Linked DNA regions of Homo sapiens: all the other regions are linked to region 2. Evidence: fine-mapped expression QTL. A gene starts in region 2. Each other region holds a variant in brackets. All regions are shown on one strand. Distances are between the middles of the regions.

The links. PIP is the estimated chance that this variant, and not a neighbour inherited with it, causes the effect. A credible set is the group of variants that fine-mapping cannot tell apart.
Region 1: its variant is the best candidate, but not a certain one, in a credible set for the expression of VPS13C in whole blood (TOPMed, PIP 0.81).
Region 3: its variant is the best candidate, but not a certain one, in a credible set for the expression of VPS13C in whole blood (INTERVAL, PIP 0.74).
Region 4: its variant is the best candidate, but not a certain one, in a credible set for the expression of VPS13C in tibial nerve (GTEx, PIP 0.74).

What each region holds. Positions count from the first base shown.
Region 1 is chr15:61,846,314-61,854,153 of GRCh38, forward strand. It overlaps VPS13C (vacuolar protein sorting 13 homolog C), which reads right to left. Exons shown (of 85, transcript NM_020821.3): 85 at 6,076-7,840. It overlaps LOC124903501 (a long non-coding RNA gene), which reads left to right. Exons shown (of 3, transcript XR_007064668.1): 2 at 3,084-3,159. Among named protein-coding and RNA genes, the nearest start is that of LINC02349, 120 kb to the left of the region's middle. The variant A/G (reference allele first, on the strand shown) is at 4,798.
Region 2 is chr15:62,056,349-62,064,234 of GRCh38, forward strand. It overlaps VPS13C (vacuolar protein sorting 13 homolog C), which reads right to left and starts at 4,099. Exons shown (of 85, transcript NM_020821.3): 1 at 3,927-4,099. The coding sequence starts at 4,026. VPS13C-DT (VPS13C divergent transcript) reads left to right here and starts at 4,155. Exons shown (of 2, transcript NR_135690.1): 1 at 4,155-4,495; 2 at 4,620-6,086. RefSeq lists a silencer at 3,961-4,310 and an enhancer at 4,361-4,410.
Region 3 is chr15:61,936,056-61,943,941 of GRCh38, forward strand. It overlaps VPS13C (vacuolar protein sorting 13 homolog C), which reads right to left. Exons shown (of 85, transcript NM_020821.3): 46 at 5,708-6,012; 47 at 4,592-4,739; 48 at 542-695. Among named protein-coding and RNA genes, the nearest start is that of VPS13C, 120 kb to the right of the region's middle. The variant A/G (reference allele first, on the strand shown) is at 3,987.
Region 4 is chr15:61,858,262-61,866,147 of GRCh38, forward strand. VPS13C (vacuolar protein sorting 13 homolog C) reads right to left here. Exons shown (of 85, transcript NM_020821.3): 82 at 5,179-5,267. The region is part of intron 2 of LOC124903501 (a long non-coding RNA gene); the gene reads left to right. Among named protein-coding and RNA genes, the nearest start is that of LINC02349, 130 kb to the left of the region's middle. The variant A/G (reference allele first, on the strand shown) is at 4,822.

The DNA.
Region 1 (7,840 bases), 210 kb before region 2:
GAAGTCCAAGCCAAAAGGAACTACAGAATGTCTTCTCATTTCCTCACACAAGAAGGGGTTCAAAAGAATAAAGAATGCATCTGCATGCATGCATAACTAGAATCAAAATCATTTAGAGCTGCATCCATATGAGTTATAATTTTATCTATCTTGCTCCCTTGAGCTTGAAAGTGGTCCATTTCTGCAGGTTGGTGTGCTTACAAAGTGGTGGCATAGTGCGATAGAAAAGGAACGTGATTTCAACCAGTTCCTGAGACTGCACTTCCTACCTATATGAACTTGGGTAAATCACTTCTACAAACATGTTTCTTCATCTACAAAATGGAAAATCACTACCTGCCATATAGGGCTGCTATTAAGACTTAAAAAGATTAAGTATGGATTTATAAACTGTAAAGCTCTTTAGTATGTTAGTTAAAATGACCTTTCTCTGATTTTGTAATTTACTCCATGCAAATTAATCTGAAGAGTTAACATTTGCATTCCATTATCCAAAGCAATGATTCCAACACATTTCAGATGACAGGGCTGACCAGCAGAGAAGTCTTCTGAGTGGGTGATGGCTTATGGAGAGCCCAGGTTGCGCATGGTGTGATCCATGACCACCTCACACAGCACTGGTCCTTAGACAACTAAAAGGTGCTGCTGAGGGTGTGCATCTGAGAAGGAAGAGCAGGATCCCATTTTCACAGCAATGACCTAGCTCCCGACTCAGCCATTCCTGCCCACAGTTCTTTCAGGGGCTCTCTTTTGGGACTCAGTTACCTACAGTCTCCACATCTAGACTTTTCTCCATGCAAGGACTAGTAACAATCTCCCACACTTTCTCTTTTGATTTTGTTGGTGGTGGTGCTGTTAAATGTTCTGTGGTTTTAAAAAAGAAACTCACTAATGATTAAGAATACACATTTAACATCTTTAGGAATATTATGAGAAAGAGGAAAAAACTTCTGCAAGCAATACATCTCACCTTTTCAAAATAACAATTCTACATCTGGTCATTTTATCAATATTTGTAAAATCTAAAGGGATCCTTAGGACATGAGGCCAGTCTTCAACTCCTTTTGTGAAAAAGGCAGATCTGGTCCAAAGGTCTTACTTTCAAATGAAGAAACTGAGGCCAAGAGAAGTAAAGGGATTTTTAAATCTACAGTACCATACAAATTTACCCTTACTGTTAGCAAAAGTGGTGAAAAGAATAACTCAACCATATTCTTAAATAAGTAAAAGTTACAAGATTAATAAATTACAATAATGGGGAAATGTTACTTTACATAAGTAATTGCTTTAATAGGTTGGGACACTTACTACTGTTAGAAAAGCAGTAGAAAATATGGAATTGTCAAAGCATTAATCTGCCTTAGTTGATTCCTGGAACATTCCTGCAGATCAGTGCACCATATCCTAAAAGGAACATGGATGAACTTGTTTGTTTAAGGAGTGCCACCAGGATTATGGGATGACTTGAAGTTTTGTCTCATTAGGGATGGTTTAGGTAGAATAAGATGAGAACTTGAAAATGAAACTTACTTGCTTGCTGGATAAATGGTAGGACATGAGGCCAGCCTTCAATTCTGCTAGGTAGTGCTCCCATAGCTAGGCTTCTATATACACAAAGAGTCATTCTTATTCCGATAGCCCTAAGGATTTGGGCTCAATGGATGGAAGCCACAAGAATAGATCTATGCTGAATATAAGGATCTCCCAACCATTAACTATTCTATGAGTAAGTACAACTAAAACAAAGGCCCCCAAGTGAATTATTTTTGCCAAAAAAAATGATTAAAATTAATCCATTCCACACAAAATAAGTATCATTAGTGCTTCTGAAAGAGCTGCACTATAATTCGGTGGCAACTGAGCATTAATTTTAGGTCGTGTGGGAAATATATTCTTATTCACCAGTCTAAGTCATGGGTACTCAGTCTTTATGGCCTTTACTAAACAGTGTTTTCAATGGTGTCCATTTACCATCTGGATTGTAATAATAGTCATGCAAGATTTCTGTTCTGTTCATTTGAGGCCAACTCGAAAGGAGTGCTTTCCAGGTCTCTCAGTTTTAACCATGGGAATCTTTTTCACAAGAAAGCACTTGTTTCCTGCTGCCAATAATTCCAGATATATTCAAATGTCCCATAGACCTTACAACTATTCCAGAATTCTTCAGGAGTATGATTCCCTTATCTTGGCGTAAAGAAAAAAAAAAATCTACTACCTACTTCAGTAACAGTGATAGATTATTCAACTGACTGCATAGTCCAAGAAATCTTTATTGAAAAAGTTAAGAACGCTGTTAATCTTCTAGTTCATGCCCTATTTTTTTTTTTCGTTTTTACTATTTTTGAGAGCATGAATCACTGTGAATTGAATGAAGTGGGAAGATTTGATCAGAAGTGTCAAAGTAGGTTAAGCCTCTCTAACAGTACTCCACAGGGAAAGGAAATGTGCCCTGTTCCAGAGTGGCTGCTTAATTTAAACCATCAATAAGTGCTTGCTTAACTAATTTGCAGCAGCATCCTCTGGTGAAGCTAAAATTTTATAGTTTCCATTCAAATTGCAATCTTTGAACACCTGCTCATTTGTTACATTACTACTCTATAATGTCATGTGCCATGCTCAAAAATATCATTTCTACTTTGGCAAGTCCCTAGCCAGTTATAATAAAGTATGTATCTTGGGCATGGTTTTTCTACTCCTGATATCAGTAGAACTCTATAAGGGTTTATGGTAGAACCCCATGCATTTGATTTTTAGTTTTGATTGTGCTGTGGAAATAGAGGCAAGTTTTATGTCCCATATCCAAAGTTTTTATTTCCTCATTTGTATACCTCAAAAGCTACATATGCTAGTCAACTGTCATAGTAATATTAGACCATATGTAAGAATTCTCCAGGAAAAAAATGTTTTAACTAAGGGCTGGCTTAGGTTTGGGTGTTACTATGGGAAATGCCATATCACAGTTAGGTGTAAAACATAGATAGGGAGAGAACATAAAATTTGGGGTTAAGGGTATAAGGTTCTAAAAGAAATCCAAGAGGCCAACACTGGCTGCATTCATTCAACACCAATGTCCTTGTTTTTAGGAAGAAGTAGAGATAGAGAGGGATGTTGGTGATGTTGGATCCTAATTTCAGTTCCTATCTCACCACAGGACCTTGGGTAAGTCATCTGATATCTGTTTGTCCCATCTGTAAGATCAATTATATGACACAATATAGGGATCAATGAACTTTTCTGTAAAGGGTCTGATAGTAAATTGTTCAGGCTTTGCTGGCCGTATTGTCTTTGTCACAATTACCCAACTCTGCCACTGTAGTGCAAAACCAGCCATAACCAATGCAAATAAATGGGTGTGGTTGTTCCAATAAAACTTTGTAAGAACAGATGATTTGGCCTGTAGGTTGTAGTTTGCCAAGCAATAGTATAATATCTACTTAACAAAGATAACTTAATATTTAAAGAGGTGCCATAAGAAGAAAAGTTAAAATGATGCATAGAGAAGGAAGACTTAAAATGATGGCAAAAGAGAAAAGTGGGTGAAGAGAAAAACTGGTACCATAAGATAAATGTTTTCTACAAAAACAAACAAAACCCAAATACCAAGAACTGAAATCTACTCTTGGTGAAAATCATTTATCAAGGCATTTAAACCACTTTAGGCATTGTAGTCAATCTCTGGGGAAGTTGCTTGATCTTTCTTCAAGTTTAAAATAATGCTAAAGAATTAAATCTTCTTTGTAGTGTTGTTATAATCTTAGTGGATAGAGGACCATGTTGGTATATATATTTCATTACTATTCTAATTTTTTCCCCACTAGAAGTCAATTTTTAAAATCTTTTCATCCAGCAGATATGTAATGTACAAAAGGGATAAAAATAATTTTGATGTGCTTATGTTTCCATATTTGTTCTCAAGTGTCATCCTTCTGATACACATCATGTGGCAACATATATGTTGACACCAATTTCTCTGAACTCTTTATCAAAAAAAATTTGCCAGCACTAACTGTAAAATGAAACATTAGTATGGTCTGAGAGGGAAGAAAATTCTGTTGTTTCTTAGAGTTTCTCCTATAGTCTATGATTTTTCTAAAATTTGAGAAGCAAATTTAATACATTGAGAATTTTGTAGGTATACAGCTCTACAATCTCTTACCTAAAACCCTGAGGCTAGATGTTTCAGAATAGAGGACTTCACATTTAAGAAAGGCAATATGGGCTGGGTGCAGTGGCTCATGCCTGTAGTCCCAGCATTTTGGGAGGCCAAGGTGGGCAGATCACCAGGTCAGGAGTTCAAGACCAGCCTGGCCGATGCGGTGAAACCCTGTCTCTACTAAAAATATAAAAATTAGCCAGGCGTGGTGGTGCACGCCTATAGTCCCAGCTACTCGGGAGGCTGAGGCAGAAGAATCGCTTGAACCTGGGAGGCAAAAGTTGCAGCGAGCTGAGATCGCACCACTCCAGCCTGGATGACAGAGTGAGACATCGTCTCTAAAAAAAAAAAAAAGAAAAGAAAAAAGAAAGACAATATGGTTCATATACCACATAGAGCTTGTATGCCTCCAGGGAAATCTGCAGCAGCACCCCACAACCAAATAAAGTACTTTTGCTACAGCCAAATTATCTACACCAAATAGAATAAAAGACCATGAATAGCCTCATGTCAATTCAGTTCAGATTTTGCTGCCAAATGTCTTTGTTTCAAAGTTTTGCAAAATCTTTTGGTTTTCAGAGCCTTCTGAATTTTTGAATTTTGAATAAGGAACTATGTGTCTGCGGTTTGTAAAAACAAAACAG[A/G]AAACTCTTTCTGAAGACTTTTTCACCTCAAAGAGACCCACAGTTGACTGTTTGAATGATACACACTTATAACTGAAGATACTTTCCAGCATGAATTCAAGAATAAGCCTCAATTTTCCCACTAGCGGCACAGTTACCAAGAGAAATGTGCTCCCTCCGCTCCAGTGAGTCTCGATTTCTTCTTAGAGCTGACACACATGGCACAGAACCCACTTTCATCAGTACTCATGGTCATTCTGGCAGTGATTCTCAACCACAAGGGCTTGTCCCCAGAGGACAAATGACCCTGTTATGAGCAATCTTCTATCCTCTAAGAATCTTTGGTTTTTCTCCCCAATAAAAAGATGATTCTTCCAGCTCTGGCAATAATTGCAACTTAATATTAACTAACATTGAGATCTGTAGAGCCCTTTAAGAATTTGATCATTTTAAGTCCAGAGCATTAATTTTTAGTCCTGGCTGTACATTAGAAACACACACAGAACTTCGTTAAAAACAGATATCCAGGCAGCACCAGATCAACATACTTAGAAACTCAAAGCACCAAAAAGATGATAGTGTCCTCCTTCATGCATAATTCAAAATAAAAACAATACTAAATCATAAAACACATGGAAGTAAGTCCACCCTGGATGGCATTTTTCTTACGAAGCTTGGGTACAGTCTTCTTCCTTTTTTTTTTTTTTCCTTTTTTAATGCCCCTGCTTTGCTACAGCCCTCAGCATGAACTTATTCTTCCTACCAGATAATCCAGCACTGGGTGAGCCTTCCAAACTGGTAGTCTGAGCCCCATGTGGAAGAGGGAGGAGAAGAGAAAGACAGCGGTATGGTAGAACATCCCAGACTGCCATGCAGTCTAAGAAAGGTTCTGCAAGGCCACTGAAGAGTCTTCAAGCCAAAGTCGGCTGTCAGAGGAGTTCTGTGTCTCCTAGAATTTCCAGACTAAGTATGTCTTAGTATAACTTCATACTCAGCCAGTCGCTGAGAGAAACCACGGAAGGCATGGGCTCAATGCAAATACAGCAATGGATTTCAAAGTGCAGCTGGGCCCCTAGGTCAACCGCATTCTCTGTAATCCCCCAGTATTGGAGGTCTCTGCCACAGATCTCTAGTGTGATAAAGGGGCTCAGTACCCCTGAGAAAAAGCTTTTCTGACTAGTATCTTGTAAAGTCCTCCATAACTATCAATATAACTTCTCACTATTTTGGGATTGGAAGAGGAAAAGGGAAAGACAAAAAGTAAAGCAAATGTTACTTGAATAACACAAACCCACAAAGTTTTCACACCTGTAAACAATGTGCCAAATGTTTTATTTCTCTCATATGCAAGTAATTACCTCTCAAAGCATTTTTAAAAAACGCATTATTACACTTTACCAATGAATTATTTCTGTCCCTGGAGATTAAATCAAATCAAAATGTTACAAATAGTATCAGTATGATATAATTTCTTAAATATATGGGACATTGTCAACAGCTGTGATTCATATGAAAAATATAATCAGATATCTCAAATTCCTAATTCTGTTTTAAAAACACAAAACACTAGAACAGTTGCTATGAAATTACTGATAATGATCCCTTTAATAAACTGCAATTAACCACTAATATAGAAATTCAATTTAAGCAAGAAGTTTTATATATTATACTTTACAGAAAAAAATAATTTTGAAAAAGTAATGACAAACAGAGATCAAACATTTAGGGCATTAGTTACTGCATTCTCTTTTTAGAATATACATTAAGTAACACTAGTAAAATTTAAAGTTTTATGACCAGGCCTTAAAAAACATGAATGATGATGACAGAACCACTATCACACATAAACAAAAATAGAGCAAACCAAGCGTGTCCACATCTCCATGAATTCAGTGATTTGAAATAAATGTTGTTATGTTAAACATTATGAGCAAATCTAAAGGTTCAACCAAAAAACTTACATATTTTTGAGTATTTTTTAAAGTTTTAATAGTTTATCTCTGATCAAGGATGGAGAAAGGACAAAAAAAAATACTGTCCTGAATTGATTCTCACAGGGCCTGCTCCCTCACAGAACACAGTGTCATTATATATGCCTTATTTATATATAAAACAACCAAAGAATTTTCATTCTTCTTAGTAAGTATTTAAAATACATTCTAGGCGTGCATTAGGAGTAAATGTTAATTTGTGATGCCCTTAAAAGACTTTCAACCTGTAAGAAACAATTTCTGGGAATATAAAAATATTGAATTTTACATATTTCAGAGTCTTGAGAAACTTAAAGTGCAGTATTTTCATGTATCAGCAAATAATAATTGTGTCATATAAGCTCATCTTGAAAGAGGATGTAAATACTTCCAAATTTTTATGAATGCTACATTACAGAGGGCAGAGTGTAGCTATTTTAAGGTTTGATTGTCCAGATTTTTTTATTAGACTGCAAGGAGGAAAAATAAGCACCAAAGTAAAATATGCTTTATTAGGGGGAAAAACAGTGTTTTCATGAAAAGAAAATAGAAAACATGTCATTTCTCCCTTTAGTGACCTTTCTTCATTCAATTACCTGGTTTACCAAGAATGTTAACTCAGTTCAATTATTGAACAAATCACTCTTAAACAAAATGTCAGGATCCAACATTTGTTCATGGGTTAAAGCCTTTTGGCGGGCCGTGGTGGCTCATGCCTGTAATCCCAGCACTTTGGGAGGCTGAGGCATGCGGATCACAAGGTCAGGAGTTCGAGACTAGACTGACCAACATGGTGAAACTCATCTCTACTAAAAATACAAAAAAAAAAAAAATTACCCAGGCGTGGTGGCACACACCTGTAATCCCAGCTACTCAGGAGGCTGAGGCAGTAGAACAGCTTGAACCCGAGAGGCAGAGATTGCAGTGAGCCAAGATCGCACCACTGCATTCCAGCCTGGGCGACAGAGCAAGACTCGGTCTCAAAAAAAAAAAAAACCCCAAAAAAACAAAAATAAAAAAACCTTTCAAAGAACACTAGTCATTCTAAGCTCATTTCTTATTCTTCAGTAAGGCTTTAATTAAATATAAGCCTA
Region 2 (7,886 bases):
ACCAGGCCATACAGAGATAGGAGCTGAGGGGACATAGTGAGGTGTGACCAGAAGACAAGAGTGCGAGCCTTCTGTTATGCCCGGACAGGGCCAGCAGAAGGGCTCCTTGGTCTAGCGGTAACGCCAGCATCTAGGAAGACGCCCGTTGCCGAGCGGAAGGTGGTCTAGCGGTAGCGAAAAGTGTCAAGGAAAAACACCCGCGACTTAGCAGACCAGGGAAGGGAGGCTCCCTTTCCCCGGGGGAGTTTAGATAAGACTCTGCTCCTCCACCTCTTGTGGAGGGCCTGACATCAGTCAGGCTTGCCCGCAGTTATCCGGAGGCCTAACCGTCTCCCTGTGATGCTGTGCTTCAGTGGTCACGCTCCTAGTCCGCCTTCATGTTCCATCCTGTACACCTGGCTCTGCCTTCTAGATAGCAGTAGTCAATTAGTGAAAGTAGTAAAAGTCTCTGATATGCAGAAATAACGGCATAAGCTATCTTTCTCTCTGTCTCCTCTCTCTCTCTGCCTCGGCTGCCAGGCAGGGAAGGGCCCCCTGTCCTGTGGACACGTGACCCACGTGACCTTACCTATCATTGGAGATGACCCACACTCTTTACCCTGCCCCTTTTGCTTTGTATCCAATAAATAACAGCGCAGCCAGACATTCGGGGCCACTACCGGTCTCCGCGCATTGGTGGTAGCGGTCCCCCGGGCCCAGCTGTCTTTTCTTTTATCTCTTTGTCTTGTGTCTTTATTTCTACACTCTCTCGTCGCCGCACACAGGGAGAGACCCACCGACCCTGTGGGGCTGGTCCCTACAGTGAAATATTTACAAGATGAATTCTTCCCTTTCTCAAGACTTGAAAATTCAACAACAACAACAAAAAAAAAACTCTGTGAACTGTAAACCTTATCTGCTAAAGCAAATAGTTGTCAAAGAAGATTATATAGAATTTTCAATTTTTTGTAAAACTTGTCAACATCATGGTTATCATAAAATGTCACCTATTTTATTAAATTAATATTCCCATTTGTTTACCCAAAAAAGTTTAAGACAAATTTCTTTAGCAATATTTTGAAAGAACAGGAAAAATCAACTCAGATATCTTGCCTTCCAATTTTATTGAGAAATTAGGGTTATCAACAACAGACTGTGCAATAATGATAAAAGCTCGTGACTTCTAGCTTTATAGCAACCACAAAAATAAAAGGCAGCAAAGCTTTACAGAGGCAGAGTTGTGAGCTGATAAAGCTAGGAGAATCCCTGATTGGATGTTCACTAGACACAATATGTGAAAGAAATGGGTTTATTTGCTCAGGCCTATTATAAAGTTAATGTTGGCCACTGGCAGAATACCTTATTCTAAAAATTTAAAAATGAGATGAAAGAAAGTCTCCTTTTCTAGATTTCACCAAAAAAAGACAAAAGGGGAAATAACATAAAATTACGACATTTTTAATTTCAGTTGTGAAAAACTTCAAAATCTTCAAGCAGTATACTCCTCAATGTCATGGTAAAACCATTATCAGAAGAACAGAATATTGGCATCACCTTCGATGTTACCTAGTCCAACCTCCAATTTTAAAGATAAAAGAGAGTAACATTTGATGGCAATGGAACCTCTGACTATATCCATACGTTTTATCTTTTTAAAAAGAAAATGTCTAAAGTAAATATGGCATAATATTATAACATTGAAATATGAGTAATTACATGAAAGTATTATATCATCCAGTATGATTTAAACTTTTCAGAATTTAAAAATATTTTTTCTATAAAGTTTAAATTAAGATGAAGAAACTAAGGCCCAATAAGGTAAGTGGCTTGTCCAACACAGCACACCATTCACTAGGCCTATTCAGATTTCAGATTTGCTACTCCGGTGCGTTTTCAAGTTTCAAATGTTTACAAACTATAAGGAATCACTGGAAAGAATATTGCCAGTATTCTGAAGAAATACTTGATTTCTGCAGAAGATGCTGGTCATTTAATTCCTTAAATGTGTCTTTCTTTACTTACCTTTCCTTTACATTGTATTGAGTGTGGTGGGGGGATGTAAACAAAGAATGTACAGTAGGCCCTCCATATTCACGGACTGAACTAACTGCAGACCAAAAATATTTCGGGGGGAAAAAATAAAAAGTATCAATTCAGCAATAAAAAAATGCAAATTAAAAAACAACAGAACAACTATTTACATAGCACTTACTTATTGGGTATTATAAGCAATCCAGAGATGACCAAAAGTATACAGAAGGATATGCATAGGGTACATACAAATACTAGGCCATTTTATTTAAGGGACTTGAGCAACCTCCAATTTTGGTATGGTCAGGGGTACTGAAGCCAATCCCCCATAGATACCAAGGGACTATTGTATTGTTGGGCAAACCACAGTGAACCAATCAAATGATCAGCCACCTATTAAAAACAGGCTCTTGCCAGGCACTATAGCTCACACCTGTAATCCTAGCACTTTGGGAGGCTGAGGCAGGAGGATCACTTCAGCCCAGGAGTTGGAGGCTGCAATGAGCTACGATCTTGCCACTGCACTCCAGCCTTGGCAACAGAGCAAGTCCTTGTCTCAAAAAGACAAGCCAAAAAAAAAAAACAACAACAACAACAACCAGGCTCTTCCGTAATTCAGGGTATAAACAGCATTGCCCAATATATGTTCCATATACGTAATTATAAATTTTAGAAGCCAAGTTTAAAAAGAAAAAAAGTAAAACTAAAAAACACGGGAAATACACTTTAATATTATATTTAATTTAACCCAATATATTCAAATATTATTTCAACACATAAGCAACATAAAAATTATTGAGGTATTATTTTTTTCTCCTACTTCATTAGGAGTAATGCTTATTCAAAACGATGTTTTAATTCATACAGCAAGTCTCAATTAGCACTAACCTCATATCAAGTGCTCCACAGCTACAGTGGCTAGTGGTTACCCTAGTGGACAGGGGAAGTCTATAGCTATTTGTTGTTGCTTGAATTAAAAGCAGATCCATACATTTGAGTCGTTTTTTGAATTTTCCTCCAAAGCTGACAAAGTTCCCAAACCTTTTGTGGAGTGAGAAAGTCCCAAAGTCCTCAAAGCTTAACACGTAATTCATGCAAACGATTAAGCTCGTTGAAGAGTGTATGTTTAAGTACACTATTTCCTGAATACTTTTATACACTTAATCTCCAGGATAAAAACGTTGGCATAAATTCCTGAGCATGCAACCAAGCAGACACCTAATTAATGACGATGCTGGTCGAGGCTTGAATTTCTCTCTATTGCTCCAAAACAAAATTCAAAATCCTCTTCGTATTGACGGAAAAGTAAATATTAAAGGAAGAAATCATTTTCACAGGAGCTGAAAGCATTAAGAGTAAGAATCCCTAAGCACACGCCTATCTTAAAGATCTCCTGCCCGTTCCTCTCCAAACCCGGTAATCCTAAAGAGAAGGAACCCAGTTCTTGCTCCCTGTAAAATGATAGTGAAGATAACTGCGAGATGCAACTTCCTCCTTTTTTCTTAGTGCCACTTCGAGCGTATATGACCAGACAACCATGCTCACTCCACGCGATACCGAAACAGAAAGGGCTCTGTTTTTATGCTGTAGGGCCAAAGGGGCCACCCTGAGTGCAGCGAGAGGACCACAGAAACGGGCAGGGCGGGGACAGCAGGGCCAGGGCTTGGCCTCGGGGGACGAGAAAGGTGGGAACTTTGGCAGCGCGGGCGGGATCCCGCCGCATCTCCCCAGCCGGAGTCGGGACTGGGACCCCGAGAATCCGCGGGCGGCAGAGGCTCCCGCATCTAGCACCTGCCGCACCGGGATGGGGAGTCTCAGGCGGCGCAGGGAGCAGGGCCCGGGCAGAATCCCGGACGGAGCAGCCCTCGGCTGGGCCCTCAGCGCCCGCAGCCCACTGGCCGCGCCCTCTCGCTTACCGCCCCAGATGCCCAGCTTCAGCTGGGACTTGTTCAGGTTCTCCACATAGTCCCCCAGGAAGCGGTTCAGCAAGTCCGCGACCACCGACTCCAGCACCATGGTGGCGCTGAGGCACAAGGAGAGGGAGGAGCCGGAACCGCCCGGCGCAGCTGAGGGCTGCGACCAGCGCTGCAAATGACAGCCCCTCCGGCGCAGGCCCACCCCCGCGCCGCGCGCGTGACCCCGCCGGTGCGCAGGCGCGCTGTCGCCCGGCCGGTAGCTAAGGAGGCCCAGCTGTGATCCCGAGGCTTTGTAGGCGCCGCAGCCCTGGCCCTCTAGAGGCCGACGGAGGAGTGCGGGGGAAGTTAGCTTGCGCCTGTCTCGTCAGCCGTGCACGAGAAAAAAAAGGACCTTCGAGAAGAACAAGGGAGGGCAAGAGTTACCGAGTACAGGGACATCTATGTGGCCGCTCTGCTTTCCCGCCGTCACCTGCTGTTGAACTCCGGCCGCATCGCGGTGTCCGGAGCCGCCTGGCCTGGAGTATGCGCTGAGCGTCACCTAGGCAACCACCCCTGCACCTGTGGATCAGGTGGGGGAAAGGGACCGACCGCGTTCTTGTCCTGCTAGAGTTCGACTCCGCCTGGGGCTTGGTCTCTGCTTCTTGAAAACATTGTTTTTTTATTTTGTTTCTGTTTTGTTTTGTTTTGAGACAGGGTCTCGCTCTGTTGCCAAGGGTAGAATGCAGTGTCGGGATCATAGCTCACTACAGACTTGACATCCTGGACTCAAGAGATCCTCCTGTGTCAGCCTCCCGAGTAGCTGGGACCACTGGCGCGCGACAAATAATTTGAAAGTGGGAGGAGGGGAACAGAACCACATCAAATGGCAGATATCATAGAATGAGAACTGAATATACGCGTTTTGTGGGAAACGCGTTCTTTTCCCCTTTCTCTAAGATTCGCTTTTAATTCACTAGCCACTAACCAGTTACCTATCTCATTACAGATATAAAAAACAAAACGTAGTAGTGCCTTTTTAAGTATGAGTTACTTGTTATTTATATATCACTTTCTTCCATGCTATCGTTGAACTGTCTTTGATGTAGCACGACCTTAAAAGCAGAGCTTTTATACCACAAGATCTTTCAACCCTTGTGAAATTTAACCACCCATTGAGATTCACCTCTTTAGAGAACTAGAAATTTTTTCCTAAAATATATTTCAAAAAGTTGTTGAGATACAGTACACAGGAAGAAACCTAAGAAATGCTGATTATTTGTAGTCACAAGCATTAATAAGTGCTTTGCTACGAGGAAGTGTCTGAGAAACTATTCGTGTATTTTTCTTAAACAACCTAGGCTTGCACAGGATCACAAAGAAAAATCTTAAATTCAAAGTCCGCTGGAGAAGAAAGAAAATCAAAATGGCTACAATTGGTGTTGTGTATTAAATAAAATTAAAAGTACAAAGAAAGACCCAGTCAGTACTAACTAGTACTATCAAGATCACATTCCTCTCCCACTTTTGCACACTCCATTCCTCTTTAAGAAGATAAATCCTTAACCGTCTGTTTTTCCTAGCTGGTCACAAAGACAAAATACTAGTAAGTACTTTGGATTTCTTCACCATCCACAACCAAATAACAGCCTAACCTGTCTATTTTGCTTTTGCCATCTTTCCTAAATTCTCCATGTTTTTCTTCTGGACCATGCCATCCATCTCCTTGAAATTCACTTCCTAGCCTCCAGTTATTCCTTCCTCCAGTCTATTCTCATGAACACCGGATGTGTTTTCCCAAAGCACAGGTGAGCTTAGGTTAGTCACCTGCTCAAAAACATCCAATAACTTCCCAGTGTTTAGAACACTCTCTTCAAACTTTCTCCACGTTCTTTCTAGTCATACACTCTAACAATCCCGCTTCCTTTTTACATTCACACTGACTATGCTCCAAGAGGAATGTAAAGAAGCAATATATGTTCTGGTTGAGATAAGGCATGTACCATAAAAAGTTAAGAAAGAAGCCAATCCAAGGATGTATGAATAACAGTATAAGATGATAGGAAAGATGGCACAGGCAACATAGCTTGGTCAAGCAGGTGGAGCAATAGGCACAATCTCTTGGGAGAAGTGAGTAACACTAATGCTTTGTCTAATAAAGTAATTCCTTACAGTTCTATGGTATAACTTGGTAATTTTGAAAGAATAATGTGTAAATGTGCTTTCATATGCATCATTCAATTTTATTATGTTTCAGTTATACTTTGTAAGGCCTCATGTCATTATTATGCGAAGGTAGGCATTTTTGTGTACTCCTCACAAAAGAGCTGTGAGGTAGCTAATGCAGGTAGTAGTATGGTCCTCATTTTACAGAAAAATTAAGCTCGGGAATGTTAAGTGACTTACCCAAAGTCACACAGCAGATATTAATTTCCTTTGATTCTCTGAGCACTGCCACCCTTTTCTCTTCTGGTAATTATACAATTTAATCAACACTGGGCTATTAGTCATTTTCAGAGATCTTACTTTGAAAGGTTCATGACAGAAAAAATAAATCTCAGAGTGGAAAATTTGGCTCTACATTTTTGGTACAAAAAAATGCTATTATCATGTAGTATAAAAAGCTTTAAATTTTACTATTTTCCATTTTCAGCATGTTTTAAGGGATTGATTATGTGCATTCAGTAATGCCCCAAATCTTCCATTATTTAACAAGTCAGAAATATACAGTCCCAATTTAAAACAAACTATAACCAATGTCAAGAAACACCATTAGCACCCTTATGTATGGCATTATATCAGAAATAATTTGGATAACAGAGGTTAAAGAAAATGAGCATTCTAATTAATTATAGTTCTTGCCTTCATTCTGGCTTAAGAACAATGAGAATGACAACAAAGGAAATTACAAAACTAAACTTCAATGAGGGACTAAACAATAAAAACAGATGAGCAAAGTATTTCTGTTAAAAACAAAAGTATAAGTTAGGGACACTTAAAAATTAACTCAAAAGTGTTTAAAAAAAAAAAAAAAACTTCACACTAACCACCACCCATACCCTATTCCCCAACCCTAGAGTTTTTGGAGAAAAGCAGAAGGAATTTGGGGGAAAGGAAATGGAGGAGAAAGCTGGAGTATAAGCCATGACACCATGGACTGCAGGAAAAGTTAGGGAGGTTAACTAGGAGAAAGCACGGGAGTGGATTTCAGAATGTTAGTGCCAGAGGGAGGATCATCCTGTTAATCCAGCCCCCTCAATTGACAGATGGAGACACTGAGTGCCAGGGAGAATTAAGGGTTTGCCCAAAGTCCCACAAGTTAGTGACTGTCAGAGCAAAAACCCAAACCCAAGTGTCCTGACTCCCTGCTCTGTATTCTTTCCAGTACCCCATACTCTAGTTGTGTTGAACAAGATGCATAAGTCAGAACACTGGTGTTTTATTGGTTGTAATCTCTCTTCTTGCTTTCCTTGACACTCAACCTCCTATATTTTTGTAAGTATGCTTTAAAATGTTTAATTTCCTTTTACTCTTAGAGCACCTCTGGTCTTGATGGTATGTGGTCTATTCATGCTCACTTTACAGAATTGTTTTCCAGCTCCAATACTGGATGTTCCCACAGCTACAGCTGGGAGCTTGGAACAGCCACTGTCTTCCTGTGAGTAGATTTGTGTGTTCCGGGCACCCTGTTACACCATTCTCCCAAGTACTGGGTGGTTGGTTCGTGCTTCCGAGTTAAGTAAAACATAAGGCTTAACAGGGTCACAGGGACCAGCCACGCAATGGCAAATCTCTGCTATTTTCAAAAAATCATGTACAGGAAATGCTATTAAGGTGTTACTAAAGAAGGTGAATCATTAATAAAAACAAAGTAGATCTGCTTTGCTTGCCTGAGGAGAAAAATGTTTTTAAAGGAATCCATGTATGAATCAGCTAATCCCTGCCCAAGCAAACATTCATAATAAAATGATAGTAATAATAATA
Region 3 (7,886 bases), 120 kb before region 2:
AAAAGAAACCTTGTATTTTAGAAAAATTATTTAAAAATGGCTGAATTCAAAAGGTTCACTGCTTTTAATAGGTTCAAATTAATGATCTGAAAAATTATCTTATGTATTTGAAACATAACGCTCCAATAAGTCCAGATAAATAAAGCTGTTACAAGAATACCTTCCTTTCTCATGGTTCAATCACCTGAGTATGACATGTGATACCAAGGTCCTTTTCTCTCTTAATTAATTTGGGACCTTACTACACTGCCTATCTAGCTTGATTCTTCTCTCAAGATACGCCACTTCAGTGCCTAGTGAATTCAGCAAATTTAGCATTCACAAGTAAAGGGTAAACAAGCACCATGCCAACAACAAGTGACCCTTCCCCCTGTAGCAGAGAACAGACATACCTCCCAGCCCCAGCCGAATTTCCACAGTAAGTAGTACAATACTGAATTAGTTCATACCACATTGTGCTGGACAGCTAGAAAAATACTAAATATAAATATGACATTAACACCAATTTTTTCTCCATAAAGTAAATATCATCAATTTATACCTTTGAGATGGTCAGGTACACTTGAAACATCAACTTTTCTCACTCTTACAGTCTCCTGCACAGACTGTGTAGGGCTTGGTTGTGAGGAAGCTTCTCCAAGATTTTCTAGCAAAATTTTCATTAAAACTGTCAAGTCATCTTCACTGAGAGCAACCTAGAAACCACCAATAATTTGTTAACTCTAAGTAATAAAAAAAATGTAGACTATCATATCTATATCTCGATTTGTGGTTTTTCAAATTAATTGTTCACCTACTTAAAAAGAAGAGAGTTAGAGTTAGGACTATAAATACCAGAACAGAAGTATTTCACCTTGTTTACTGTGTGCACACACACTTCTGCCTTCGCCCATATCCAGGCCCCTGCCTCTGGCACTCCAACACTCTCTATGGCTTATCTGTTACTATGTCTTCCTGTTCCTGGACCCGTGCCTATCTGTCCCATTTCCCTATCTTCCCATCTCCATTCTGTCTCTCTCTCATCTCAACCAGTACCAGTTCCTTCTTCTATATTATTTACTCTCCTTGAAACTAAATACAGGACGAGTGTTGTTCAGTTTCTAGTCTCTACCAAATAGTAAAAAGATGCTCTCCTGCTACGTAGCTCTTCATCTCAGTATATATGCATCTGGACATACATAAAACATTTGTTTAACTTATCAAGAATAATACCATTTAGAACAATAACAAATGTATCTACAAAGAATGTTTAAAGAACAAAAAATAGGAAGGTAGCATCTTATCTTTTACCTTCATAAAAGGGTATGTGTGGCAAAAAGAAAAAGAGCCAGGGCTTTGAGTCAGGCAGATCTGTATCAACTACCACTTTCAAGCTGTCTTGCTGCAAAGTTTCTTAACGTCCTTAACTCAAGTTTCTTTTCTTTTCTTTTCTTTTTTGAGATGGAGTCTCGCTCTGTCGCCCAGGCTAGAGTGCAGTGGCACAATCTTGGCTCACTGCAAGCTCCGCCTCCCAGGTTCACGCCATTCTCCTGCCTCAACCTCGTGAGTAGCTAGAACTACTGGCGCCCGCCACCACGCCCGGCTAATTTTTTGTATTTTTAGTAGAGACGTGGTTTCACCATGTTAGCCAGGATGGTCTCGATCTCCTGACCTCGTGATCCAACCGCCTCGGCCTCCCAAAGTGCTGGGATTACAGGCGTGATCAAGTTTCTTAATCTCTAAAATAGGCATAATACCAACTTTCTCACAGATGGCTGCAGAACAAGAAACTAAAACAAACGAAACTGCTACTGGCTGCTAAAATCCATTAAACCAGTACTGTCTTTGAAGCTCCTTATCCTTCTACCTTATGTAAGACACAGTGGCTCCAAAGGCCTGTTTCAAGTACTTACAAATTCACACAAGCATGCATGCAAGCACGCATGCATAGCAAATCTCCTCTGAATACCACAGTACCCTATGTCCCCCAAATTAGGTCCCTACCACCAGAGAAATTGCCTAGTTCCCACTTTAAATGAAAATACAGAGCTATTTAAGTACAAGATAATGACCAGGGATTTATGGCTTGTCCTAAGCCCCAGGCCTCATATAACAGGTGTAATTTTAACACCTTAGAATTTCCTTGTATATCCCAACCCACTTCTCATACCAACCAAGATTACCACAGCTTTCTGAAGGGCAACTAAGTTCACCCCTCTTTCACTTTGCTGTGGGGTGGGGGGGGAACAAGTATGAAGGACAATTTTGAAAGGCAGCCCCACAGTTCTTTAAAAACCATCAAAATGATCCACCCAAAACAACCTGTAGGTATCACCTGCCTGATACCCTTTTTTAGCTGCAGCCCAGACCAGGGAAACAACTTGCCAGTGTCACCTGCCTGATACCCTTTCTTGGCTGCATCCCAGGCCCAGGAAAACTATACAGACTATGACCAAAGGGGGGTGTTTAGAGAGACCTGGATCAGCGACAAATTAGGCAGTGGTGGCCTCATCCACTGTTGCTGCATTCCTGAGTTAATAAGGATGCTTTTGGTTAAAGTAATTATAATACTTTGATGCTAAAGTATCAGATGTTACTTTTTTTTCTTGTTTCTTCTAAAATACCTTAAAAAGCATAAAGGAAAAGGACAGAGAATACTATAATCTTCCCCTGTGAATCTACCACCTGGCTTTGTCAAATCTTAACAAGCTGCAATATTTCCTTCAGATCTCGTTTCCCATTACAGATATAGCAGAAGCCCCGTGTGTACTTCTCTGAGACCCTATTCCCTTCTCCTTTCGCCCTTAGAGAAAGACACCAGCCTAATTTAGAGATTATTTCCATGAATACTTTTCTTAAAGTTATCACACTGCATCTCTTATAAACAATATATAATAGTATTATATTGCCTGTTGAAAATCTGAAATAATATAAAACTGATAGAACTGTACTATCATTTTGCAACTCACTTTTTTCATTTTTATGTTCAAGATATATCAATTTTGTTTGATATAGTTCTATTTTATTCACTTTATCTGCTTTACAACATCCATTATATGAAGATACCAAAATTTTATCCATGTTCTGCTACCAACAGACATTCAGGTTTTACTTATGCTTTCAACAAACCTATAACCACAAAATCTTTGAAAGGGATTGTCAGATATTAGTCCTGGGATCTAATCTTTGAAAGGGAGAGCCAAATATTAGTCCTGGGATCTAACCTCTTGGCAGAAAGACAGAAATTAAAAGAAGGTACCCATACTCTGGAATAAAGGCTACCCTATGAATGCCCAAACAAACAAAATTTAATAATTGTTCTTCATGTAATATATCCACTAGTATATGAACAGAAACCCTTCATTTCTACAACAAGCTTCAATTTTAACTTCTTCCCTAGTAAAACTCTGCTCCTTTGATCCTTCCTATTTCATGTTAGAACCAACTCTGAAATAATCACAGGTATGAAAACCCATTAAACCACTAAATTTTTGTTTGGTTTTGTTTAGTCTCTCTCACCCCTATCCCATCCTCGGCTGTTTGGTTTCAACAGTTTCACACATAGGCACACAAGAATCACAGGATTCCTATACTTCCACGACTACCTTCAACCAGTCTCACCTCCTCCTCTGAGCTGATATGCAACCTTCTAGCTACATTATTAAAAATAACGCTGTGGCCGGAGCACGGTGGCTCACGCCTGTAGTCCCAGCATTTTGGGAGGCCGAGGAGGGTGGATCACCTAAGGTCAGGAGTTTGAGGCCAGCCTGGCCAACCTGGTGAAACCCTGTTTCTACTAAAAATACAAAAATTAGCCAAGTGGATGGCGGGTGCCTGTAATCACTGCTACTCAGGAGGCTGAGGCAGGAGAATCGCTTGAACCCAGCTAGTGGAGGTCACAGTGAGCCTAGATCATGCCACTGCACTCCAGCCTAGGCCACAGAGCAAGACTCCGTCTCAAAAAAAAAAAAAAAAGTTGTATACTTATCAAATATACACATTTGCCT[A/G]TTAAAATGGTAACACCTTTCTAATTAAAACAAGGCCTCTACAAACTACACTATTAAAAATAATGGTGTATTTATATGCTTATCAAATATACACATTTGCCTATTCAAAATGATATCACCTTTCTAATTAAAACGGGCCCTCTACACATTTAAAAATACTAAGGTGCTTTGAATGTAGTGTCTGAATATCACTTTGCATTGTCTTACAATTTAACTGCATTAAAACTTTAACAGAATTTTCCAAAATTAAGAATAATATTTTTAGTACACTCCAACAGATTTTATCTCAGACTCCTTGCTGGTTTTACCAAATATCTAACTAAAATGAAAACAAAGAAAAGTGAGGGAAACAAGGATGATTTCATTTGCATATTTTTTATTTATTTATTTTTGTTGTTTTTAAATAGGAAACAAAATCTAGTTTACTCAATTTATTACTTGGGCAAAAGTACACATACAACAGACAAATGCTCACTAAGAGAAAACTGGTTTAGCTTTATCAATAACGTAGCAACTCCTACATTCTGATATCCACTAGAACTGCACTATGATCAACGAGAAAAGCCTATCAAGAAATTTTCATATATTATATACTAGCTACTTACCTGCATAGGTTTTAGTTTTCCTTTTATCTCCATCCCTGGAATTTGCACATACCATGCTGCTGCTAAGTTTCGCTGTATGGACAAAAGCATGTTGACTGGTTTTAAAATTTCAATGTCATTTTGTGGCAAGCTAGCCTGCAAAATAGTTCTGAAAGAAAAACAAGAATTTATTTTTTACTTCAAATTTACATTTTAAAATGAGGACTATCCTATTGTGTAACAGTTTCCACACAGCATTTCATAAAGGCTAAAAGCTGCTAACAGAAGTCTTTTAGAATACACTTCTTTTCACATTTTTAAGATCAATCTAAATCACAACACATAAGTTTATATGCAGAGCTATCCAAAACCAAACCTACATAACACTGATTTCAAAAACATAATTTTCATACACTATGACAACTGCATTATTTATTATTTTTCACAAAGGCTGTTTGATACAGCGAATAGTTTACTGTCATGCAAACAAATGTTACATCCTCCTAAAACTGGAAGATGAAGAAAGTAATCTTATACTTAGCCCTTAATATGTTATTGGTACTTCTCCAGACTCAAGGGGGAAACTCAACTAATCTAAAAGTTAAACGAACATACGGTAATAGTCATTCCAGCTTGCCTGCCAACAACCATTTGCCTAACCAAATAAACGCTCTTGTCACTCAATAGAGCCAACACTGTCCCATTTCGATTCACTAATCCTTTCGATAACTCACTGAAAATTCCCAAATGTGACAAGGTTTGGAAATGAGAAATAAATCTTAAATTTTATATATTACGAAGTTTTTTCCCACCAAAAATAAAAAAGGAAATAGCTACGTGCAAAGTGAGAAAAATAAAAAATTTAAACTAAGTATTGAGTAAACTATAATTTTATAATAGCTAATTTTTATAGAATGAAAAAAATCATATTACATATGTAGTAAGGGAAAATACAGACTCCATGAGGCACATACATGACTGTTTAACCACTGACCAAGAAGCCAATGGTCAAGGTTTCATAATTAGAAGAAATAAGGAATGAAAACCACAAATTACTACAACATTTTACCTTAGGTAAAAATTGTATGAAAATCCTATTTCTAGTAAGCAATACACAATTAGATTACATATTTATACCTTGACAGCTTCAACTGAGTGAGTTCGATGTTCATTTTATCAATGACTGGAGGAAGAGAATAATGTTCCATAGGAACCAAGCTAAACTTGTTTTCAACTCTGATTAAACCCAGATCTGCTATAACAGCATTAGGTGATACTGAAGACTGAGGAATAATAATAACTGGTGCTTTCAAATTAATATCCATCAAAAGGCGGAAACTCTTTTGAGCCAAGTCTTTCATGCTGGAAGCAGCTCTTTCTGCAGCCTGGACTGTGGCTGTACTCAAAGCTTCTTTAGCAGTTTGGAAATTGTTGAGGAAGTTCTGTTGGAAGAGACAGATATTTAGGGGAAAAAAGGCATTTATTTTTAAAAGAAAAAACTTTAAAAAGCATTTACTTTAAAAACTAAATAAAAAAGTAATATAAAAGATGTTATTTATGATTTTGTGTATGTAGAGAGTGAAGTCTAGAAACATACACTCTGAGCTATTAACAATAGTTACTGTAGGAAGAAAGAGCTCTTTCTTACATTTCATAAAATATTTTTCATTTTATAAAATATTTTATAAAATATAAAATAATTGAGAATTATTTTATTCTCATGATAAATTTTTGCAACAGTTCTTTTAAAAATCTCCTTTTTATTAAGAATGTTGGTTATTTTAAATTCAAATTTAAATGAAAGGGAGAAGGGCAGTACCGTACTTCTCCAAAATTGGGTTCAATTCTGTACTGCTAGGCCACAGCAATAAAGTTTAGTCTTAGAAACTAAGCTTCTGCCGGCTTATTTCTGATAAGGCTTTTTTTTTTTTTTTTATGTACTCAGCATGAGGAAAGACAGTTAATTGTCTACAATCCTGTAATCATTAGTAAGAGTCAAAATTTATTTATAATAAGATGTATTTCATCTCAATTTCAACTAAAAACAGAAAAATCTTTCCCAATGAGGATAAGATCATTCTCAGAAGCAATATTCTTGGTGTACATCCATTAATATTACAAAAGCAACCTAACCTCCCCGGCACCCACCTCCAAGTTAATTGCTCTCTAGAAAAGTAAACATGATGGTTTAAGTAGAAATGCATGCTTTTAAGGAATCATGAGATTCTGCACATGGGAAACCCTAAGGACTCCACCAAAAGGCTCCTGGAACTGACATACAACTTTGGTAAAGTTTCAGGATACAAAATCAATGTACAAAAATCAGTAGCATTTCTATACACCAATAACATCCAAGCTAGAGAGCCAAATGAAGAACACAATCCTGTTTACGATAGCCATCAAAAAAACAAAGTACCTAGAAATACATCTAACCAAGGAGGTGAAGGATCTTTACAAAGAGAACTAGGAAACACTGCTGAAAGAAATCACAGATGACACAGACAAATGGAAAAACATTCCATGCTCATGGATTACAAGAATCAATATTGTTAAAATGGCTATACTTCTCAAAGCAATCTATAGATTCAATGTTATTCCTATCAAATGACCAGTGTCATTTTTCACAGAACTAGAAAAAACTATTCTGAAATTCATATGGAACCAAAAAAGAACCCAAATAACCAAAGCAATCCCAAGCAAAAAGAACAAAGCTGAGGCATCACATTACCTGACTTTATACTATACTATAAAGCTACAGTAACCCAAACAGCATGGTACTGGTACAAAAGCAGACAAACAGACCAAGGGAACAGAATTGAGAACCCAGAAATAAAGCTGTACACCTACAGCCACCTGTTCTTTGACAAAGTCAACAAAAAATAGGCAATGGGGAAAGGATTCCCTATTCAGTAAATGGTGCTGAGATAGCTGGCTAGCCATATGCAAAAGAATGAAACAACGTTTTATTCTATGGTGAAAGGACCCCTACCTTTCACCATATACAAAAATTAACTCAAGATGGATTAAATATTTAAGTGTAAGACCTCAAACTATAAGAATTTTACAAGAAAACCTAGGAAACACCATTCTAGATATCGGCTCTGGGAAAGAATTTATGACTAAGTGCTTAAAAGCAACTGCAACAAAAATAAAAATTGACAAGTGAGACCTAATTAAAGAGCTTCTGCACTACAAAAGAAACTTTCAGTGGAGTAAACAGACAACCTACAAAATAGAAAAAATGTTCGCAAATTATGCATCTGACAAAGGTCTAACATCCAGAATCTATAAAAAAAAAAAAGTGTGAACAAGTGAA
Region 4 (7,886 bases), 200 kb before region 2:
CACTCCCTCAGAATGGTCTCTCAGATCTCAACTCGAGATTTTTATCCAAACTCCAACTATCTATCTATCTATCTATCTATCTATCTATCTATCTATCTATCTGTCTATCTATCTCCCTCCCTCCCTATCATGTATTCCTTTCTCCTCTACATCCACTCAGTCACCAAGCCTTGTCTCATAAGTCAAATCCTCATTCTTTAGGCCCTCCCCACTTCCTACCATGATAGCTGCCACAGTCTCTATGGTAGACAGAATTCTAAGACAAGTCTCCAAGATTCCCCAACCCTGGTATATATCTCTGTATAGTGCCCTGGACTTTGAATATAATGGATTTTACTTCCAAGATTAGGTTATTATAAGGCACAGGTGACTCTGAGCAAAAATAGTTTATGTAGGTGGGCCTGACCTAAGTTCATGGACTATAAATCTGCGTAAGAGACCAAGAAGTCAGAGATTCAAAGCACCCTTGTTGGGTTGGAATAAGGGTAGCTTCTAGGAGCTAAGAGCAGCTCGCTGGCTGACAGAGGTCAAAGAAACAGGGATCTTAGAATTCTGCCAACAACAGCAAATGAGCTTGGAAGTGGATTCTGTGGTAATTTGTTGTGCAGCAATACAAAATGTATACAGTCTCTAACTGGTCTCCTTGCCTCTGGACTGATTCTCTTCCAGTATAACATCCAAACCGCCAAGGATCTTTTAAAACTACAAGCCTCATCATATTACTTGTTTACAAACCTTCTGTGGGGTAGAAAAAAAGAGAGATTACTCACGTGTGTACTATTCTGTGTGAGAAGCTACAAGTGATATCAAATAAAAAAATAACTGCCAGCCAGTTATGATGGCTCATGCCTGTAATCCCAGCACTTTGGGAGGCCAAGGTGGGAGGACTGCTTGAGCCCAGAGTTGAAGACCAGCCTGGGCAACATAGTGAGACTCTGTCTCTTCTAAAAATACAAAAAATTAGCTGGTGAATGCCTGTGGTACCAAGTATGCAAGAGGCCAAGGTGGGACAATCACCTGAGCCCAGAGAAGTCGAGAATGCAGTGAATCACGATCGAGCCACTGCACTCCAGACTGGGCAATGAAAATGAGAACCTGTTTCAAAAAAATAAAATAGCAGACTATACCTTAAGCAAAAACCAGTGATTCTCCATCACATTAATGATAAAACCTAAACCCTTAGAATCTTATGAGCTGCTACCTATGACTGATCTCCCAACACTAACACCCTACCATCCAGCCATTCCACACTGATCTTACTGGTCAAAGTGCCATACTATTGTATGCCTCCACTTGCCTCTAGTTTACCTATGCAAGAGCTACATACTCAAGACTCAGCTCAAGCACTCCCTCATCTATAAAAGCCTCCCTGACACTTTTCCCATGACACTGTGGTCCCCATCTTACTGTACCAAGAGTTTTCCCTATGTCCTCAGAGACTCTGTCCATCGCTCTTCTTAGCACCTATCACACGGTGATATCATTGATAATTTGTAGCCCCCTGCCCATTAAAATAGGGAAGGAACAGAGATGTAACTTCATCTCTGTGTCCCTGTATTTGTCATATGTTGATGGTTTTTTTTTTTAAAGTCTGCTCAATAATGAATTTCTCAATAAAGATTACTAAAATAAACTATAGCAGAGTTAGGACCAACTAGTAAAGCTATAGCCTAAGAAACTTAGGTCTTGAGAACTTGTGTTTTGATTTTAAAAACTCATAAGAAAAAAAAATTCAGGGACTAAGTTTTGGGTGAATTTCAAAACAAAAAAATGCTATATACTGAGAAACTCAATTAGCAATCACTAACATGTCAATAATACATTTGACAAAAAGGGCTAATATCATTAATTTGCAAAATGCTCTTTAAATTCAGTAAGAAAAAGACTAACATACCAATGAAAAATGAGCAAAGAATATGAACAAGTAATTCACAAAGTAGCAAATATAAATAGATGATGATATATTAAAAGGTACAGGCTCAACAGTAATCAAAGAAATGCTAATTAAAACAAAAAATTATTTTCTACCCATCAAGCTAGCAAAAAATAAAAGTTTAAGTGATAAAACCTAGTCTCAGCAAAACACAGGAGAAAGAACACTTTCATATATTGTTGAGTGGTATGTAAAAAAACTGATACAACCTTTCTGAAAAATGACTTGGCGATATACAGAAAGGACCTCAAAAATCTTCACAACTTTTAAATTAGCAATCCCCCTTTTAAAATTTTATTCTAATAAAATAATAGAAAAAGATTTGGTTACAAATAAATAACAATAAGATACTAGGGAAAAAATGTCCAATAGTGAGGGAGTATTTTAATAAATTATAGCATATCTGCAAATACAAAATTATGTAGTCATTAAAAATCATGTTGTCAAAGAATATTTAATGCTTTGGGAAGATGATGACAGTATATTGTTACATGAAAAATTGACAAGACTAAAATGTAATAATGCATTTTTTTGTACATAGTTTTCGTAAAATGTGCCAGCTAATGGGGTTATCTTTGGGTGCTGACATTGCTGGTAAAGGATATTTTTAGGGGTGATCATATAATCTGTTATTCAAACCAGGATGTTTTTAAGAATGAAAGGAATAGCTATTGATAATTACATAGGGACAAAACGTGCAAGCAAATCTACTATGTCCTAGGCAAACTAGAACGCATGTATGGTTAGTTATTTTCTTTCTTTTTTTTTTTTTTTTTTTTTTTTTTGAGAGACAGTCTTGCTCTGTTGCCCAAGCTGGAGTGCAGTGGCACAATCTCAGCTCACTGCAACCTTCGCCTCCCAGGTTTAAGTGATTCTCTGGCTTCAGCCTCCCGAATAGCTGGGATTACAGGCATGCGCCACAAAGTCCAGCTAATTTTTTGCATTTTTCGTAGAGATGAGGTTTCACCATGTTGGCCAGGCTGGTCTCGAACTCCCAACCTCAAGTGATCCGCCCGCCTCGGCCTCTCAAAAGTGCTGGGATTACAGGCTTAAGCCACCACACCCAGCCTATTTTCATCTCCTTATTTTCAATACTGGGGTGGCCAAACTGTGCCCTTCAAGCCAAATCCAGCCCAAGACCTGTTTTAATATATAAAATTTTACTGGAACACAGCTATGTCATTCTTGTACATACTGTTCATAGCTGTTTTCTTACTATAAGGGCAAAAACAAAAGGTTGAGAAACACAGTATGGCCCTTAAAGTCTAAATTTTACTATCTGTCCCTTTAAAGAAAGTTTGTTGACTCCTGTTCTATGTTATCTACAATGAATAGCCATAACTTTAGCAATAAAAATTATTTTGGATGTGGTGGTGCATGTATGCCTATAGTCCAGGCTACTTAACAGGCTGAGGCTGGAGGATCACTTGAGTCCAGGAGTTTGAGTCCAGCCTGGCCAACACAGTGAGAGACCCCATTTCTTTAAAAAAGAAAATGTTATTTTTAAGAATACTGAATTTGGAAGAAATGCTACTATTTTAATGTAATCATTAAAGGTCTAAATGATTACCATAATGATAACTACCTCAATCAAATACATTCTTGTTAGAAAGAGTCTACTAAGGCCAGGTGCTGTGACTCATGCCTGTAATCCTGGCACTTTGGGAGGCCAAGGTGGACGGATCACTTGAGGCCAGGAGTTCAAGACTAGCCTGGACAACATAACAAAACCCCGTCTCTAATAAAAATACAAAAATTAGCTGGGCATAGTGGTGCATGCCTGCAATCCCAGCTACTGGGGAGGCTGAGGCACGAGAATCACTTGAACCCAGGAGGCAGAGGTTGCAGTGAGCTGAGATCGCATCACTGGACTCCAGCCTGGGTGACGGAGTGAGACCCTGTCTCAAAAAAAAGAAAGAAAAGGAAAAAGAAAAGAAAAGAGTGAGAAGAGAAGAGAAAAAGTAAAGGAAAAGGAAAAGGAAAGGAAAGGGAAAAGGAAAGGAAAGGAGAAAAGAAAAGGAGTCTACTAAGTAAGGTTAGCAAGGAAACTAAGTCATAGTATTTACTGGTCAGGTATATTTTACTAATTACCTCCTAAACAACTCCATCAGTGACTAGATTTCAAATGATGATGATTTTTCAATGTACTTGAAGAAAAACCAGATATATAATGTATACAGTAATACTCCCACAGAATGGCTTAAATCAAATAGGTACTAAGTATTACCAATAAGTATTACCAAAAAAACCCCAAATTGATTCTCATTGCCCAGTACTGAATTATATAAAAGTGATACAATTTTAAAATGAATTAACACATTGCAACAGCTAAGTACAATATCTAAGACAAAAAAACATTGTTTTTGGCTTAATCTATTGAAGACAATATAAAATTATGGACATAAAAAATAAGTGATTACTTGTCAAAGTCATAAAATCTGCTTTTTAGATTGTTTTGTGAATATTTTTAACTCTTAACTAATGAGCAAATCACATGACTGGAGAATCCTCTCTTACATGAGGATTCTGACATGACTGGTTAACCTCTCTTATCCTGTCATTCAGCTTTTCTTTATTCCCATTCAAACAAATTTAAATGCAGTCATGAGGAATCTAATGCAGATTTTGCCACTGTAAGAACTTTGCCTTACTCTTATAAAGCTCAACACTAAGAAAGTTCTGAAAATTATTAATATATAATTGTCATTTTGGGATAATTTTATTATCTAGGATAGATCCCAGGAAAATAAGCTTGGTAGTTTACTATAAGTTCTTCTATTTGGAAAAATCTACCACAACCAAATGCTTAGGAAAAGCTGAGATAAACATATAGAAGTAATGCCACCCTTTAAAAGGGGTATGCTAATCACTCAAAATAAAACTTAGTA[A/G]CAAAAGTGATTCATGAATTAATCCTCCATAACTGGACTTGTAATTCATGAAAAAGGGTATCACTATTACAGGTATAAAGCCTAGTCTACATTCTCTCAGTGGTTGTGTAACTTGGATAAGTCCCTAAGCCACACTGAGTCTCAGTTTCAGCATCTTTCAGATGAGGAGGTCGGAAAAGAAAATCTCAAAGGACCTATTTAGATCTGTATTGTGATTCTATGAAAATGAACATTTTGCCATTCACTTTGGAGAATTTTAAGTACAATTTTCCAACTCTTCTGCCATTTTAGCCTTCAAAATTCTTGTGACCTATGCAACTAAGTACTATTTGGAAAAATGTCACTTCAAGTCAGTACCTATTTGTAACCATAAGGATTGTCTTCTTGCTTCCAGGAATAGCACAGTGGTATCGGTAAGTCTCTCCTTCCAACTTTTTGATATGATTCTGAAAAGGAAACCAGGCTCTAGATTTGGGAAGTTATGCATTTAAGTAGTATTTACAATACTGCATATTAGCTAATTATAATAATAGTGTTAGGAAAAAATTAATTAGAAATAAAAGCACAATTCTACATATTGGTACATGAAGCTAGAAAAATATTCACAGCATGTTTGTAAGTTAACTTCCACTGTTGCCTTAAAAGAAAAACATGTAATAAATGCTTACCAAGTGGTCTTCTGGTAAAATACATTTTGTTCTGTAGTAACTTAGAAATATTAAAATATCTACCAGCAATTATCACACACTTTAATTAAGAAACATATGCTAATATAAAATAACTACATTAACATTACAGGGGATTTGAAATAGGGGTCACTGGTAGCACTTTGCGGTGGGTCTCTGAACCACCTAACATAAAATAGAAAATTTTGAAAACGTAGTTCTAAAACTTTTTTCAGGGCAGTTAATATTTTTTGTCAGTTTTTTTTTAATCACAGAGGGGGGTCTGTGATCTCAAAGATTAAGAACCACTGGTTTACATAGAGGTATTAGTAGATATTATACACATAATAAAATTCCAAGATAATTAATGTTTAATGCTTTGAACATTTGATCTTATACGTTAAACATGCGTGGGGAAGTATATTTATATATCAAATTATATTTCTTATAGAAAAGAAAATATGACAATATTAATATGAACAATTTCTAAGATTTCAAAATAGCTGGCACAATTTATTTCTAAAAACAAATATGAGCATAAAATAATTCAAGTATAAGTAGTAGCACATTAAAACACATTTATTTTCCTTTTCAGCTATCTCAAAAGTACTGTGACTTGAATTAGTCAAATATTAAAAACGAGTTTTTTTATAATGAATGCTAATGAAATACTATTACTGACATTATATATAATGCATGGCTGAAAATAGATAATATATATGAAAATACAGAACATAAATATACTGAATAAATAAGACCTTGACATTTTACGACCAAGAATATAATGCCAATATTATTAAAAGGATAATATAATCAATATAACCACAAGCAGAGAAATCACATTTGATATTATTTCAATGCTTAAATATACATTTTTTAAAGTTGCTTGGTACCTAGTCATTCCTTGACAATTGCAAAAAGCCATGAATAAGGAAGAGGAATCCACAAAGAACTGGGATCTCATCTTCAGAATGAGTCTCAGAGAGGAGTGCAGATTTCACAGCAATAGCTACTTGTTTCACAATTCACTTGTGCGAATTAGTTAAAATCTTTTAACACTTTTGCCTTAATTTCTTCAAAGAGAAAATGGGAAATGAATTTAATAATGTAATGCATTTATCTGCAGCTTGAAATTTAAATATGTTAAAATATTTAGATCTGAAATGCAAGTACAAGAAATACTACCCACTTTCTATCTTGTATGTATTTTCGTTAGTTATTAGGCTATTGTGCTTCAAGCCATTGACAGTTTTTAAAATATAATTTATCACCATAATACACTTTAGAAAACTTGTCTTCAGCACTACTAAAAACCCACTACACTCTGAGATTCAGATTAAGATATTCAGTCACTAATGGCAGCAGGGAGACCAAATTAGTTGATAAAATATTCACGTCCCCTTTCCAAAAATGCAACTCGAGGAATTTAACAATACTTTGCAAAAGCCCTTTACCCAGTAATTCAATTTTTTCAAGTAAATTCTAAGGAAATATGAAAAAGCAAACAAGATATAAAAAAGCAAAATCTATAATGATGTTTATTACAGCATTATTACTGTTAGTAGAATAATTTAATGTCATGAATTAAGACGAGATAAAAACACAATGTAATGTCACCTCAATAGATGGCAATACAAGAATTAAAAATGTTAATGAGGCATTTCTAAGAACATGGAAAAATATAACTAAAACTAAAAAGCAAGAAATGCTGTTTTAAACGTTGCATGATCATAAGTATGTGAACCAAAATGAGTATTAAATGACTATATATACATACATATAATGTATGTATATATGTATGTGTAAATATGTGTATGTTTGCGTATATATGTGTGTATATGTGTGTGTATATATGTATGTGTATATATGTATGTGTACATATGGGTATATTTGTATGTGTGTATATATATGTATGTGTATATATGTGTATATTTGTATGTGTATATATATGTGTGTATATGTATGTGTGTATATATGTGTTTGTGTGTATGTATATCTGTATGTGTACATATATGTACGTGTGTATATATGTATGTGTATATATATGTGTGTGTGTATATATATATGAAGATTAGAGGATAAGTAGAATAGTACATCTCATGGAAATATAATATATGATTCAGTAACTCTCAAAGCTGCATATTAAAGAATACAAAGTAGTACTTAGGAGAAAAAGGAACATGAGGATCAAAAGATCCCCAAATAAATTATTTAGAATTTGGCCATATTACAAAGGGCTAAAAAGATATACTTTTATACTCTAATACTCTTTAATATTTCCATGTTTTGTTTTACTCGGTCCCTTAAGGACAGAAGGCTTCTTTTGTATATCCAGTACAGTCTAAATAATCAATAAATATTTTTACCCAACTAACTGATCACAGCAAGATGGGCAAAGAA